2 linked regions of the Homo sapiens genome follow. The protein of the gene in region 2 purifies or fractionates together with the protein of the main gene of each other region. This does not show direct contact. Each region holds a gene or a part of one and is shown on either strand. Other genes may lie near its edges. The genes, in order: CLPB and ADCK2.

Evidence for each region.
Region 1: the proteins of ADCK2 (region 2) and CLPB purify together in Homo sapiens (affinity purification with mass spectrometry; 2 studies listed by BioGRID and IntAct, with this or other methods). This does not show direct contact.

Annotation. Positions count from the first base shown.
Region 1 is NC_000011.10:72,424,496-72,431,766, forward strand, and holds part of CLPB (mitochondrial disaggregase), read right to left. Parts: intron 5,869-7,271; coding exon 5,817-5,868; intron 1-5,816. UniProt on the Homo sapiens protein: Functions as a regulatory ATPase and participates in secretion/protein trafficking process. Has ATP-dependent protein disaggregase activity and is required to maintain the solubility of key mitochondrial proteins.
Region 2 is NC_000007.14:140,675,812-140,683,082, reverse strand, and holds part of ADCK2 (uncharacterized aarF domain-containing protein kinase 2), read right to left. Parts: intron 3,929-7,271; coding exon 3,800-3,928; intron 2,042-3,799; coding exon 1,946-2,041; intron 1-1,945. UniProt on the Homo sapiens protein: The function of this protein is not yet clear. It is not known if it has protein kinase activity and what type of substrate it would phosphorylate (Ser, Thr or Tyr).

The sequences.
Region 1 (7,271 bases), on a different chromosome or scaffold from region 2:
TGTAATCCCAGCACACTTTGGGAGGCCGAGGTGGGCAGATCACTTGAGGTCAGGGGTTCGAGATCAGTCTAGCCAACATGGTGAAACCCCATTTCTACTTAAAAAAAAAACAAAAATACCCTGGGCGTGGTGGCTCACGCCTGTAATCCCAGCACTTTGGGAGGCCGAGGCGGGCGGATCACGAGGTCAGACCATCCTGGCTAACATGGTGAAACCCTGTCTCTTTGTAAAATACAAAAAATTAGCCGGGCGCGTTGGCGGGCACCTGTAGTCCCAGCTACTCGGGAGGCTGAGGCAGGAGAATGGCATGAACCCGGGTGGCGGAGTTTGCAGTGAGCCGAGATCGCACCACCGCACTCCAACCTGGGGGACAGAATGAGACTCCGTCTCAAAAAAAACAAAACAAAACAAAAAAAAACACAAAAAAAAACTTAGCCAGGTGTGGTGGCATGCACCTCTAATTCCAGCTACTCGGGAAGCTGACGTATGAATATCACTTGAACTCAAGAGGCGCAGGTTGCAGTGAGCCGAGATCGTGCCACTGCACTCCAGCTTGGGTGACGGACTGAGATTCTGTCTCAAAAACAACAAAAAAGTGTCTCTTGTTTTTCCCTTTAAAAACACACTTGCAACTGTTGCTAATCTGGAGCATATATTTATGGCAACTTGAATCTAGACTCTTGGGTTGCAGTCCTCAAACTTGGCCCCAGTAAACTCTTTCTACTAATTTTACAGTTGCATAATTAGTTATCTGACTCCTAGTTAGACTGTGCCAAGAGGGCAGGGACTGTGCCAATCTTGTTCGTTACTGTTAACTGCCACATTCAGCCCAATGCCTAGCTCTGAATATGCACTCGTAAGTATTGGCTGAATGAATTAATCATTTTGTTATTAGTAATAATGACTCTGCCACTCTGTGGGGTTAGTTATTATCATCTTCATGTTAGTTGGAAGGTAGGTAATTTGTTCCTTGTTTCACTGGCTCTCAATGTTTGACTCATGTCCTTCTTCCTCACCAGAGGGCACACGAGCTCCTCTAGGGCAGGGACTGTTTCTCCTTCCTCATTTTGTTGCCACAAATTCAGCTCAGGGCTAGGCACAAAGCACAGGCTGGACAGATGGGCGACTGAGGGACAAACGGAGAGTCAATCAATGTTCTCCACGACCAGGTCGCTACCTGTCTCCAGTCCCTCCTGGCCTCAGACTGTGATCCAGCAACACCGAACAGCAAGTGACTTCCCCTCTGCATACCCCCCAGGCTGCTCCTTGCCTTATGCTACCACATATGCTGCCCTTTTTGCCTGGAATGGCTTCCCCTTCTATTTACAAAGTCCAACTGATATTTTAAGTCTATGATCAGGTGCCATTTCCTCTGGAAGTCTTTCTCAGATCCTCCAGGCTGTTTGTCCTCTGGTCTCCTGCAGCCCCTGTAGTTTCCTGTCTCACAGCACTGACCACCCTATTGCCACAGTTTACCCCGACTCTGTCATCATGGGCAGGAACCATGACTGCTTAAGTGTTCCCTGTGCCAAGCAGAGGACTCAGGATATGGCAGATGCTGTTTGTCAAATGAATAAATAAATCCTGGAGAAAAAGGGCAGGCAGTCTGAGGCCCAAGACTGATCTTGCCAGGCTTCCTTTATTAGAGACTGCTTGGGCTGATGAACAACTGAGGTAAGCACTCAGCAGAGGCCTAGCCCCCTGCTGGGAGAAGGGAGATGGGTAGGGGTGTTGTCTTTCACCCACTTTGTGCTGAAGGAAATGTGATCTCCACCGGGAGAACAGGAGGCCTCACTTTTCCCAGTCCCAGTCCTGACAACTCCTCACATGGCTTGGCCTGAGCCTGGACAGATGTGCCTCTAGTCTGCCTTGTGCCCTAGGTTTCGGGTGAGCAGTTCCTCAGGCTCAAGTTTGGGGTAAGCCCAGGAGCAGGACCACCTGCTCACACTGCTGACAGGTAGGAGGCCAGGCTTCCACTTCTGAGGAACCAGAGATGGATGAACTTAAGTGCCTCAGGGGAGAAGGGAGGAAATGGATGTCACACAGGAAGGGAGGGAGGGAGGGAGCGAGGGAGGGAGGAAAGAGAAGAGACCTGGCCTCCCTCTGATATAGCCAAGGGGAGTGTGAAAGCCTCTGGACTGCTTACTTCAGGTACACTGAAAAGTCAATAAAAAGCAAAGAAAGAGTCACAAAAAACAAGTAAGTGCCGCTGTGCTGTGGAACAGGGTAAAAGACGGTAGAGAACACAACCTTGTCCCTGCCCTTCAGGAGGTGCACAATCCAGCAGTTTCAGATGAAATATAGCCCACAGACTTCTTCATATAAAGAACAGTGTGGCAAGTGGCATTCAGCTCTACTTCTCCAACCTGACCTCCAGCTTCTCTTCCACAAAAGGAGCTCCCTCCTGTGACAAGCTGCCATGGTCCTTTCTAGATCACCCTCATACCCTCCCAGACCAGAAGGCAGGTGTAGGATCAGAGTGGGGGGAAGAGGCAAAGGAAGATGAGATCACACCCAGCTGGGAGGAATCCAAGAAGGCTCTGTAAGGAAAGCAGCACTAGAGCTTTGAAAGGTGTAAGCAGAGGATAATGAATACAGATGGCAGAGGGCCATCTGTGGAGGACCCACATCCAGGGCCCATGGACTGAAGATTCCAGGGTGTCCTTAAAGAGGAGGATCGAATACCTCCCCCTGGGAGCAGAAGAGCATTAGGCTGCTGCCCTTCACTATCCAGAACTTTCCCAAGACTCTGGGGCTAAGGACAGGAGCTGGGGGAGGTCAAGTAGAGGCAGACACAGTACAGAGCCCCAGAGAGGTCAAGTGGGGAAGAAGGGTAAAGCACGACATTATTTACGAGGTCTGAGTTTTGCTCTAAATACTGATATTATTGACCATATCAATCATATACACAGTGACCCAACCATGTGTAACCTACAGTCATGCGCTACACAATGATGTGTTTGTTAACGATAGACTGCATGTATGAGGTGGTCTTATAAGATTATAATGAAGCTGAAAAATTCCTATCCTCTTGTGACGTTGTAACTGTCTCAACATCATAGTGCAACAAATGACCTTTTCTGTATTTAGGTATGTCTAGATACATAAATACTTACCATTATGTTACAATTGCCTACAGTATTCAGGGCAATAACGTGCTATACAGATTCCTAGCCTAGGAGCAACAGGCTATACCATATAGATTAGGTGTGTGGTAGGCTATTACCATTTAGGTTTGGGTAAGTATACTCTATGATGTTCACACTGTGATGAAATTGCACTACTCAGAATGTGTCCCTATTGTTAAGCAAGGCATGACTGTATGTGTAAATTCAAAGAAATAAATGAGTATGGGATTCTGTCCTGCTATAGGCAGGTCTGTTGGGCAGAGCTAAGAGCCCAGGACATTGAAGAAGAAATAAAGAGCAGCATGAACCACCTGTACAGAGTCTAGGGTACAGAAAGGCTGAATAAGGACCTACTGTAGGAATTCCAGAAAGTTTCCTTCTAGCAAGGATGGTCAGGCTCCCTTTACCCCCACTGCCCCCAGACCTGGCTCTGTTCGCAGGAAGAACTATAACTGGTGGGTTACATGTCTGTTTCCTTGAGACCAGGGCCTGGGTCACCATCCCCATCCCCCATCTGCAGTGCCCAGCAGAGGCCCACTCACTCTTTCATAATCAAGAGCTGCTTTGGGTGAGGGGGAGGGAAGGATGTCCTCATTCAGGCCCTCATCATCTTGAATCTGTCTTTACTGAAACAGAAACAGCCTCTTAACAGATCGGCCCTCAGCCTTTTCCCAATGCAGTCCATCCTTCACTCCTCTGCAAGTCAGCCTTAACTGGGTCATTCCCCTGCTCAAAAACTTCCCACGTCTCCCCACTGTGTACAGAGTAAGAGTTCAAAACTCCTCACCCTGGGCATGGCAGGCCTTGCACATTCCAGCTTCTCTCAGACAACCTTCCCTCTTTTCTGACACCCTGTACAAATCCCACCTCAGGAGCATCAACATATTCCGCAGGCCCAGCAGCCAGCCAGCATCTGCTTCCCGCCTTTGCTTAGCTTGCTCCTGGCTCTGTGGTCTTGTATGAGATGGGGGCTGAGGGCAGGTCTGTGCCTCGCTCATCTCTGATGTCCTCACATGGAGTGAAGGGAGATTCTGACAGGGTCATCCTGACCAAGTGAGGTGGGACAAGAGGAGGCAGGAGAAAAGCAGGCTAGAGCCTGGGGACACACATGAAAAGCCCCCCCAGACACTATCCACACGAGAATGAATGTTCAGAAAAATTGTCTGAATCACACATACACCGTTAAGTTCAATTACTTTCTGTATTTTTGGGATGGGTGTTTAATTGCTATTAGAAAAACATGTATTTGAAAGAACTAAATAATCAATGCCTGGCAGCTCAATGGAATATGGTAGTGGCATCCCCTGGGGGATGGAAGAGTGGATTCCCAACATTGCTGCTCTGCAAATGCCCTGCCAAAAGGGGAAAGTCGCAGCCCGGCAGCCCTTCGCAGTAGCCAACAGGTGATTCCAGGGTCAGCAAGGGTCAGTTTCCATACCCGTACTCCTGTACTGCAGCAGAATGAAGCAAAGCACATCTGTTTCTGGAGGAATGAAGATGCCACACACAGCCTGCAGTTATGAATGGCTCTTATAACAACAGGATGACATCTGTGCTTGGTTTTTAAGATGCATCATCGCATGTTTATTAAACTATTGCTCCAACATATTTATTTGGCTACAAAACAACTCCCAGCCCATATTTCCAAAAGTGGTTTATTAAAAACTAAGGCTTGAACATTAATACCCAAAAGCACCCTTGAGAATCAATAATAATGCTGCAGATAAAATGAAAGGGAATCAAAGCAGTAAGTCTTGGTGGGGTGGGCTGCTTTTCAACACTTTCTTGTATGTTCAGGAAGCTAAGGTGGGGAAGAACACCAAGGGCCTGTGGCACTGGGTGTGGAAATAGCCACCCCAACACCTGACTTCCTGTCTAACATGCAGACATGATGGCAAGGAAGGGGGGTGTCCTATGGCCACCTAGCTCTATATAAATGGCCAAGAGAGGCCAAGGTTAGGCCCAGTGGGGGGCATAGTTTCAACAAGAATAAGACCTCTGCCCTTAACCAACAGCCCTGTAACTGATGCCCCATGCTGGCCCCAGTCTGAGCATCCATCCTGGACACAGACTCTGCCCTATACCTGGCACTGGGCTGAGCCGAGTTGAATCTTGCCCTTGCCAAATAATAAGCCTCAAATTCAACCTGCCAGTGGTCACTGGAGACTAGCTGAGCCAGTGAAGCTACAGAAATGCAGTCTGTCCCCGGGCAAAGCCAGGTATGGGCCCCTGGCCCTGCAGGCAGGCATTTCTAGCCCCAGACCTTCTGGCAGATGGTCTCTTCCAGCTCTGTCCCAAATCCCCAAGCCTTTCCATAGATGCCGACCTGCAACCTGTCCAGGCAGCAAGCAGTAATACATGGCCATTCCCAAAGAAATGAGCACAAATCAGAAGATTCAGAGAAGAACCCAAAGGATATGGGGGCTGAAGGGAGTCCAAACCAACCCAGTGAAGAACAAAATAGCTGAAGGATCCAGGGATGTTTGGGAGCTGACTCCCTACCGAAAATATCCAAGGGGTGATCTGGGTAAAGGAAGCCCAGGTGACTCTGTGACTACAGAGATGTCACAGGGGACAGTTCCCAGCTTAGGGTAAGGATTTCCTCCAAAGCAAAGTCATCACACGAGAAGAGGCTCGCCCTGCTCAGCCTCTCCTGTAGGGGAGAGCAAGGCCTGGGGTTCAACTCACCTGCTGACTTCTTGCATATTGTTGGCACGGGCAGCTTCCAACAGGGCTGCATCTGAAGAGAAAGGGGGCACTGGTCAGATCCGCGGCCAGGACATACCCATCTCAGGACTGCGTGGAGGGCCCACTAAGACAGTGGCAGTACTTTAGAAACGTGGACTTTGACAAGCAAACTGATGTCACAATATATAATGAGAAACGAATCATTCCCTCCCCACATGGTGTCCACTGTTAACAACCTGACTTCCACACCTTTCTACTACAGAGCCCAAACTCTTCACTCCTCTCATCATAGAGGGAATGCAGGTCAACTGCTAGCACCACGTCTTGCCTATGGTAAATAATGTGCTCTTCATAATCTATGAAGCTCTGCATATGCTTTATGTTCCTATAAGAGTTATTACTAAAGATTCCCTGATCTTGTCCACTTTCTCCCTCAACTCCAGTTCTTCAACCCAGTTCTGAATCTTGATGTCAAGTCATAAACCCAAAAGGAAAGGTAGAATGGAGAGGAGCAAGCAGGGTGTAGGCCTCTCTGAGGATGGAGAGGTCTCAACTAGGAGTCTTTGAGATCTAGCTCCATTCCACTCCCACTACTCACCACGTGACCATGACAGCTCCTCTCTCTCTCAACCACAGCTTTCCTGACTGTAAAACATAGACAAAACTCCTTGCCCTGCCAGCTTCACAAGGATGTCAAGGAGATGAAATGACAGTTGAGACGTCTGCAAACTCCCCAGTGCTGAGCCCAGGGAAGGGAGACCCAAAGCAGAGGAGACACTAAGCCTAGGAGAAAAGCAACGCTAGCTAAGTGCGTCTGGCCTGGTCTGGGCAGCCTGCAGGCTGTTGCCACCACCTTGTGGCCATAAAGAAAATTGGACTGACTCAGAAAAACTCAAAAGTCAACAGGAGAGGCACAATCTTTTCAAATAGCTCAATACCAGGTACATGGAGCCCTCTGTGCCCAGCCTGGTTCTGAGCTACACTGCTGGGCAGTGGGCGGATTCATAGCCAGCCCTGACTCAGGGAACTCTCAGTCCAGCCAAAAGACTCACTCATGAGCAAATGCACTGGAGTAGAGTGAAAGAGCAGGATCTGGAGACAGTCAGACCTGGGGTCTAGCCCAGCTCTGTCGCTTATTTGCTGTATAACCTAGCCCACCTATCTAACCTCCTGAGCCTTAGTTTCCTTATCTGTACAATACACCTTATCATGCATATGAAAGCCAGTCCTGTGGTTCAGACATTGATGCCTCCTGGCCTAGATTCCAGGGACAGGTCCTTTCTACTTACCTTACCGGATGTACCTAAAGCACATACCCAAGCATGGCTCAGACAGCCACCAGCTGGGAGGGGATCAAGCCTTCCTTAGAGATGGCTATATCCACTCTCCCTTCACTCTGCAGAAAAAAATGTGGCTTCTACAAGGTTACAGAGTGAGGAATGAGCTAAGAACCAG
Region 2 (7,271 bases):
GATCCACCTGCCTCGGCCTCCCAAAGTGCTGGGATTACAGGCATGAGCCACTGCGCCTGGCTTTTTTTTTTTTTTTTTTTTTTTGAGACAGAGTCTCATTGTATCTGAGGTTGGAGTGCAGTGGCATGATTTTAGCTCACTACAACCTCCATCTCCTGGGCTCAGGTGATCCCACCTCAGCCTCCCAGGTAGCTGGGACTAAAGGCATGCTGCCACCAAACGTGGCCAATTTTTGTATTTTTTTTTTTTTTTTTTTGTAGTGACAGGGTTTTGGCATCTTGCTCAGGCTGGTCTCAAACCCCTGGGCTCAAGCAATCTCCCCGCCTCAGCCTCCTGAAGTGCTGGGATTATAGGTGTGAGCCACTGCACCCAGCCAAAACTCTCCTATGTTTTAATCTGGGCACTGGGATGCTTTTTAAAAATTCACTAAGCATCATTTAAGATCTGAGCACTTTATATTTAAATATTATTGGAATTCAATTTTTTAAAGTTAAGGGCAAAAATCTTCAAAATGAACTTATCTGCCCTTGGATTAAAGTCCAAACTCTTTCACAGATTTACTAGACCCTTTGTGGTCAGGCCCCTCTCACCTCCTCAGCCTCCTCTCACCTCCTCAGCCTCAGCAATCACTGCCCCCTCCTTCAAACTCTCTTCCAAGCCATACTAAGTGCTTTCGTCTCTCCAAGAGCACCATGCAGTAGCTCACCCCAGGCCTCAGCAAAGGCTATTCTCTCTAGACAACTCCCTGCCACCTGTCCTTATGTAGTGACACCTAGACCTTCACACTGCAGCTGAGATGGAGCCACTTCCTGAGTGAATCCCTGGGTTAGCACAGTCTCCTCCGAAATGACCTTTTGGTACCCCGTACCTATCCCTATAAATCATTTACTTAGTCGTCACCTATCTTCCCAAGGAATAGTATGTCACGAGCATTGTAATTGTGTCTGTTTTGCTCACTGCTGTAACCCCAGCCCTTAATTCAGTGCCTGGCACCTAGCAGGTGCTCAATAAACATTTGCTGAACAAATGAGCAAAGCAGCATTTAAAATAAGATATTGTCTCAGCTGTTTGCTAAACTACAGGCAATGCTGGCAGAACTGGGTCATGGTCACCCTTCTTCTCACAGCACACAGAGCATGAGCCACTGACAAAGCACTTAAGAGGCCGGGCATGGTGGTTCATGCCTGTAATCCCAACACTTTGGGAGGCCAAGGTGGGAGGATCGCTTGATCCCAGGAGTTCAAGACTGCCCTGGACAACATAGTAAGTCCCTACAAAACAATTTTTTAAATTAGCCAGGCTTGGTGGCTCATGTTTGTAGTCCCAGCTACTCAGGAGGCTGAGGAGTGAGGAGGCAGGATCACTTGAGCCCAAGAGGTTGAGGCTGTAGTTCATGGAGATTTTGCCACTGCACTCCAACCTCGGCAACAGAGTGAGACCCTATCTTAAAAAAGGAAAAAAAAGGCCGGGTGTGGTGGTTCACACCTGTAATCCCAGCACTTTGGGAGGCCAAGGCGGGTGGATCATGAGGTCAGGAGATCGACACCATCCTGGCTAACATGATGAAACCCCATCTCTACTTAAAAAAATACAAAAAATTAGCCAGGCGTGGTGGCGGGCGCCTGTAGTCCCAGCTACTTGGGAGGCTGAGGCAGGAGAATGGCGTGAACCCAGGAGGCAGAGCTTGCAGTGAGCCGAGATCACGCCACCGCACTCCAGCCTGGGCGACAGAGCAAGACTCCATCTCAAAAAAAAAAAAATAAAAGAGCTTCACAGACACCATGGCCATTTATGGTAGCCTCCACTCTTTCTAGACCAGACTTTCTCAACCTGGCGGCTTGCTGCTTCGCTCTCCTTCCCACCCAGATAGCCAGAGTCCCAGCCCACTCCCCATCTGCAAGCTGACCACATGCTGGGCCTGAGCCCGCTCCAGCCATGAGCTCACCATCTTCAGGAGCATGTTGATCCCCAGCCGTGCAATCTTCCTTTTCAAGTCCACGGGAATTCCTGCCTGCTGGTAACTGGACACAGGCACACTCTCCTTCAGAAAGACCAGGGAGAGAACAGCTTAATCCCAGCCAGCCTGTGATGCTGGCTCCTCCTCCCACGTGGCACCACAGCGCTGTCTTCTCACTTATTGGGAAGTAACCCAAAGAGTATTTCCTTTCCTAGAACCCATCTGTCATTCAGCCATGTGCAGTGGCTCACACCTGTAATCCTAGCACCTTGGGAGGATTGCTTGAGCCCAGGGGTTCAAGACCAGCCTGGACAACATGAGGGAGAACCACCTCAACTCGGAAAGTCAAGGCTTCAGTGAGCTGAGATTGCGCCACTGCACTCTAGCCTGAGTGACAGAGACTCTGTCTCAAACAAAACAAAACAAAAATCTGTCATCCACACATTGATTTGAACTTATTTACATTCCCTTCTATAACAGCTATCAGAAGGATGACAAGTCACATAGGTTTATTGAAAAGGAAACCTATCAACTCTGCTACTGAAGATAAGAGATGTGATGTCCTGAAAAGATAGGGGTGGGCACCAGAGAGCTGGTTTCTGGGCAAGAATCAGCCAATAGGGGTCTGGGCAACGTAAGGAGACCCCCATCTCTACAAAAAAAAAAAAAAATTACCCAGGTGTGGTGGCTAACACGTATAATCCTAGCACTTTTGGAAACCAAAGCAGGAGGATCACTTGAACTTGGGAGTTTGAGACCAGCCTGGGCAACAGGGAGAAACCCAGGCTCTACAGAAAAATACAAAAATTAGTCGGACATGGGGATGGTGGCTCGTGCCTATGGTCCCAGCTACTTGGGAGGCTGAGGTGGAATGATCACTTGAGCCCAGGAGGTGGAGGCTGCAGTGAGCCGAGATCATGCCACTGTACCACAGCCTGGGCAACAGAGCAAGACCTTGTCTCAAAAAAAAAAAAATTGTCAAAACAACCCATGGAGATAGATCTTGTTATCCCTAATTAACAAATAAAAGAACCAAAGCCCAGAGAGGTTAAGCAACTTGCTCAAGTTCACACAGCTAGAAACACTGTGTGGTTCATGTCACATTCATGAGATTCCCTGAATCTCATATCACCATCTGTAAAGAGGAGGCTGGGCTGGGTGCAGTGGCTCATGCCTGTAATCCCAGCACTTTGGGAGGCCAAGGCAGGCAGATCACTTGAGGTCAGGAGTTCCAGACCAGCCTGGCCAACACGGCAAAACTCCATCTCTACTAAAAAATACAAAAATTAGCCAGGTGTGGTGGCACACACCTGTAATCGCAGCTACTTGGGAGGCTGAGGCACGAGAATCACTTGAACCTGGAAGGCGGAGGTGGCAGTGAGCTGAGATCATGCCACTGCACTCCAGCCTGGGCAACAGAGTGAGACTCTATCTCAAAAAAAAAAAAAAAAAAAAAAAAAAAAGAGAGAGAAGGCTGAACTAGAGTAGAGGATAGCTAGGGCAAGTGAGATGACACAAGGTTGTTCAGCACTTTCTCTGTGCCCAACTCCTTGTTTTGCATTCAGTGTGTCATTTACTCCTGAGACAATCCTCTAAGGCAGGTCACCAACTAATAAAATGGCAGAGCAGATTTTCAAATCTAGGGGATCGGGCCACACCCAGTGTTCTCAGCTACCTCACTCCAACACTGCCTCCCGCCGAGGCCAACACATCCCAGCTCCTCACAGTTTTACAGACACAAATCCCATCCTCTCTCCAGACTGAAGCCTTTCTGTGGGCTGGAGACGGGCCCACTGCGAGTGGCAAGTGAAAGGTATGGCCAGGCAAAGCCATCACTCTTACTTCATACGTTTCCACCAAGACTTCTCTGGTGACAAAGGGGCGCAGAGGGGTGGGGAACTTGACGGCTTTCACATTCCGGAAGTTGACCTGGAAGTGTTCTAGATTCTGAGCTTCGTAACGCAGGTCAATCTACAGAGAAATGGACAGAAAGGATGAGGGCTAGTCTGGGTACAGGCACAGTGACATCTGCAATGCCAAGGAGCTAGCAAGTCATGAGATCCACCCCACCTTCCCCACCAGCTTGCCCCGCAGAACTTGCCCAGAAACTCAGGAGGCGACATCCGTGGGCTACAGCCTGCCCCAGCAATCCCAGATCTCTGTGTGAACTCCTGGAGGCTGCAGACGGCAGGTGCCCTGGTGGGCTTTGGGCTGCACTGCTTCTCTGCTACTCTCGCCCTTGCCACCCGCCTGCCTCACACCAGCCCATGAGTCCCTTCCCCGTCTCCCTGGGGTCTGGCTTCTCCAGGCCAGCCCCCAGCCCTCTCTTTCCATTAGGGCCAGCGTGCTGTGGGCGCTTCCACACAGGGCTACCCCTTCATCTCGCGGCAGCTCTCCACCCACCGCATCGACACTGCCACTGCTACTCTCCCCAACCACCACTCACCAGACCCAAAGGACCACTTCCAGGTTTATCATCAACCTCTGTGGGCATCCAGGGCTGGTGCCGCTGCTGACCTGTCTCTCCGTGATGGCTCTTCCCCCGGCACCTGCCCTTCACTCTCCTGGCACCCCTGCTGCCTCTCGCTGTCCTGTCTTGGCTGGGTCTCCTGTGCCCCCAGGAGCTGATGTCCTTTCTCCTGACCGAAGTGAGCGTGTGTGTCCCCTTGACAGCCACCAAGCCCTCAGCCGGCGCCTCCTCTGACAGCACCTTGATCCCCAGGTCAGACCTCAATGCCAGTCTCCAGAGTGATATATCCAATGACACCTGGATGTGGCCCGGTGGGAGCCCAGAGACCCTGAAGCTCTGTGCCTAAATGGAATTTCCCTTCACCATCCCCACGCACTCAGTCACCTTTGAGTCCCCAGATCATGCCTTCTCTCTTCCCCTCCGTGCACAGCAATGGCCCAATGCCATCAAGTTTGCAGCCTCACCGCCCTCAGATCAGTCCCTGTCCCCCAATGCCACTCCCAAGGCGCATGCCCTCAGGTCCAGTCACCTGAGCACAAACAGAGGTGCCTCGAGTGTGCTCCTTGACCCATCCTTCCTCTCCAATCCATTACCTGCATGGTGAAGTCTGCACTCCTTAGAATGGCATCCAGGTGGGTCATGATTTGGCCCCTACTTCTCTGTCCAGGTCCATCTCTCATGGCACCTTCCCCTGCCTTTTACCACCCAAGACCTGGCCTCACCCAACTCCATATAGTGCTCGACATCCCAGAGTGGCTAACACCCCCGGCTCTCCTCTGGCTTCTTTACTGCCTCGAATTGGAATGTTATTCCCCCACTTGGTCCAACTGCAAACACCAGTCACCTTTCAATACTCAGCTCAAGCTAAGGACACCAACCAAGTCCTCCTCTGAGCCCTGATGAACCATGCTGAGGTTCAGCCAGGCTCAGGTTCATTGCTTCCAGGGCCTCCCTCAGATACCAGATGGCTCAGTCCCTGACATAAAATTGCACAGTATTTGCATATAACCTATGCATATCCTCCCATATACTTTAAATCAGCTCTAGATTAGTTATAATACCTAATACAATCTAAACGCTCTGTAAATCATTGTTAAACTGCATTGTTAAGGGAATAATGCAAGAAAAAAAAGTCTGTACATGTTCAATACAGATGCAACTATCACAGACCTAACTACATTTTTTATTGAATCCGGGGATACAGGACTCATGGACAGAGGGCTGACTGTCTTTCTTTTTTTTTTTTTTTAGATGGAGTCTTGCTCTGTTGCCCAGCCTGGAGTGCAAAAGCATGATCTTGGCTCATTGCAACCTCCGCCTCCTGGGTTCAAGCGATTCTCCTGCCTCAGCCTCTCGAGTAGCTGGGATTACAAGCGTGTGCCACCATGCCCGGCTAATTTTTGTATTTTTAGTAGAGACAGTGTTTCGCCATGTTGGCCAGGCTGGTCTTGAACTCCTGACCTCAAGTGATCCACCTGACGCCGCCTCCCAAAGTGCTAGGACTACAGGTGTGAGCCACGGCACCTGGCCCTGACTGTCTTTCTTAGGGATAGGAAAGCTCACTTGTTTTCTTTGCTTACTAGCGTCTAACAGAGTTTTTTGTTTGTTTGTTTGTTTGTTTGTTTGTTTGTTTGAGATGGGATCTCACTCTGTCACCCAGGCTGGAGTGCGGTGGTGTGATCATGGTTCACTGTAAACTCTGCCTCCCAGATTCAAGCGATTCTCCCACCTCAGCCTCCTGAGTAGCTGGGACTACAGGTGAGCACCACCACGCCTAGGTAATTTTTTGTATTTTTGGTAGAGATGAGGTTTCACCATGTTGCCCAAACTGATCTCAAACTCCTAACCTCAAGCAATCCACCCACTTCAGCCTCCCAAAGTCCTTGGATTACAGGCATGAGCCACCGCACCCAGCCCTAACAGAGTTTTTAGTCACTGTTACATAAACTTATAAATGAATGGAGAGACACTCACACACTATACCCAGACCCACAACTCTAAGGCTTCCAGCCTAGGAACATGATGGGACTACTGAGAGACGGACACAGGCTTAGTAGGAAGAGCTGATTTTTAAGACAAATGGGGTGTGATTCAGAGATGTGAGTTTGAAGTGATGGAACCACATGATGTCTGTCAGACTTCCGCAAGGGGAACTGAAACTCAGATGAGTGGCAGGACTGAGAGGAATTAATGCAGAGATGGTTGTTGGAATCGATGCTATTTTCTCTGTTTTAATTTGCTTTTATTATCAAATTACATTGCTCTGTAGCTATGAATGTTTGTGTCCCCCCAAAATTCCTTTGTTGAAATGCTAAGCCCTAAGGTGATGGTATTAGGAGATGGGGCCTTTAGGAGGTGATTAGGTCATGAGAGCAGAGCCTGCATGAATGAATCAGCGCCTTTACACAAGAGACCCAAGACAGACCCCTTACCCCTTCTACCATGTGATGACACAGAAGGTGCCAATTATGAACCAGAAAGTGGGGCCTCACCAGACATCGAATCTGCCGATGCCTTGATCTGGAATTTTCAGCCTCCAGAACCTCGAGAAATACATTTCTGTTGTATGTAAGCTACTTAGTTTATGGGATTCTGTCCGAACAGACTAAGAGACTTTCTAAACATTGGAATGAATCCCTAGGACTTAAAATCTTAAATCAGAGCCTCCAAACAAATACTCGGCAGGTTGCTTCTGAAAACCTCCCAATTCCTGCACTACCCAACAAGGAGCCAACAGGTACCTAAGTGGAGCCCCGACCACCCCAGTGTGTTTGCTAAGTCTGTATCCTTATACAAAGGTCCCAAGGGCCCTGAGCATGAAGGAGGTCCTTGTTGACTCAATTG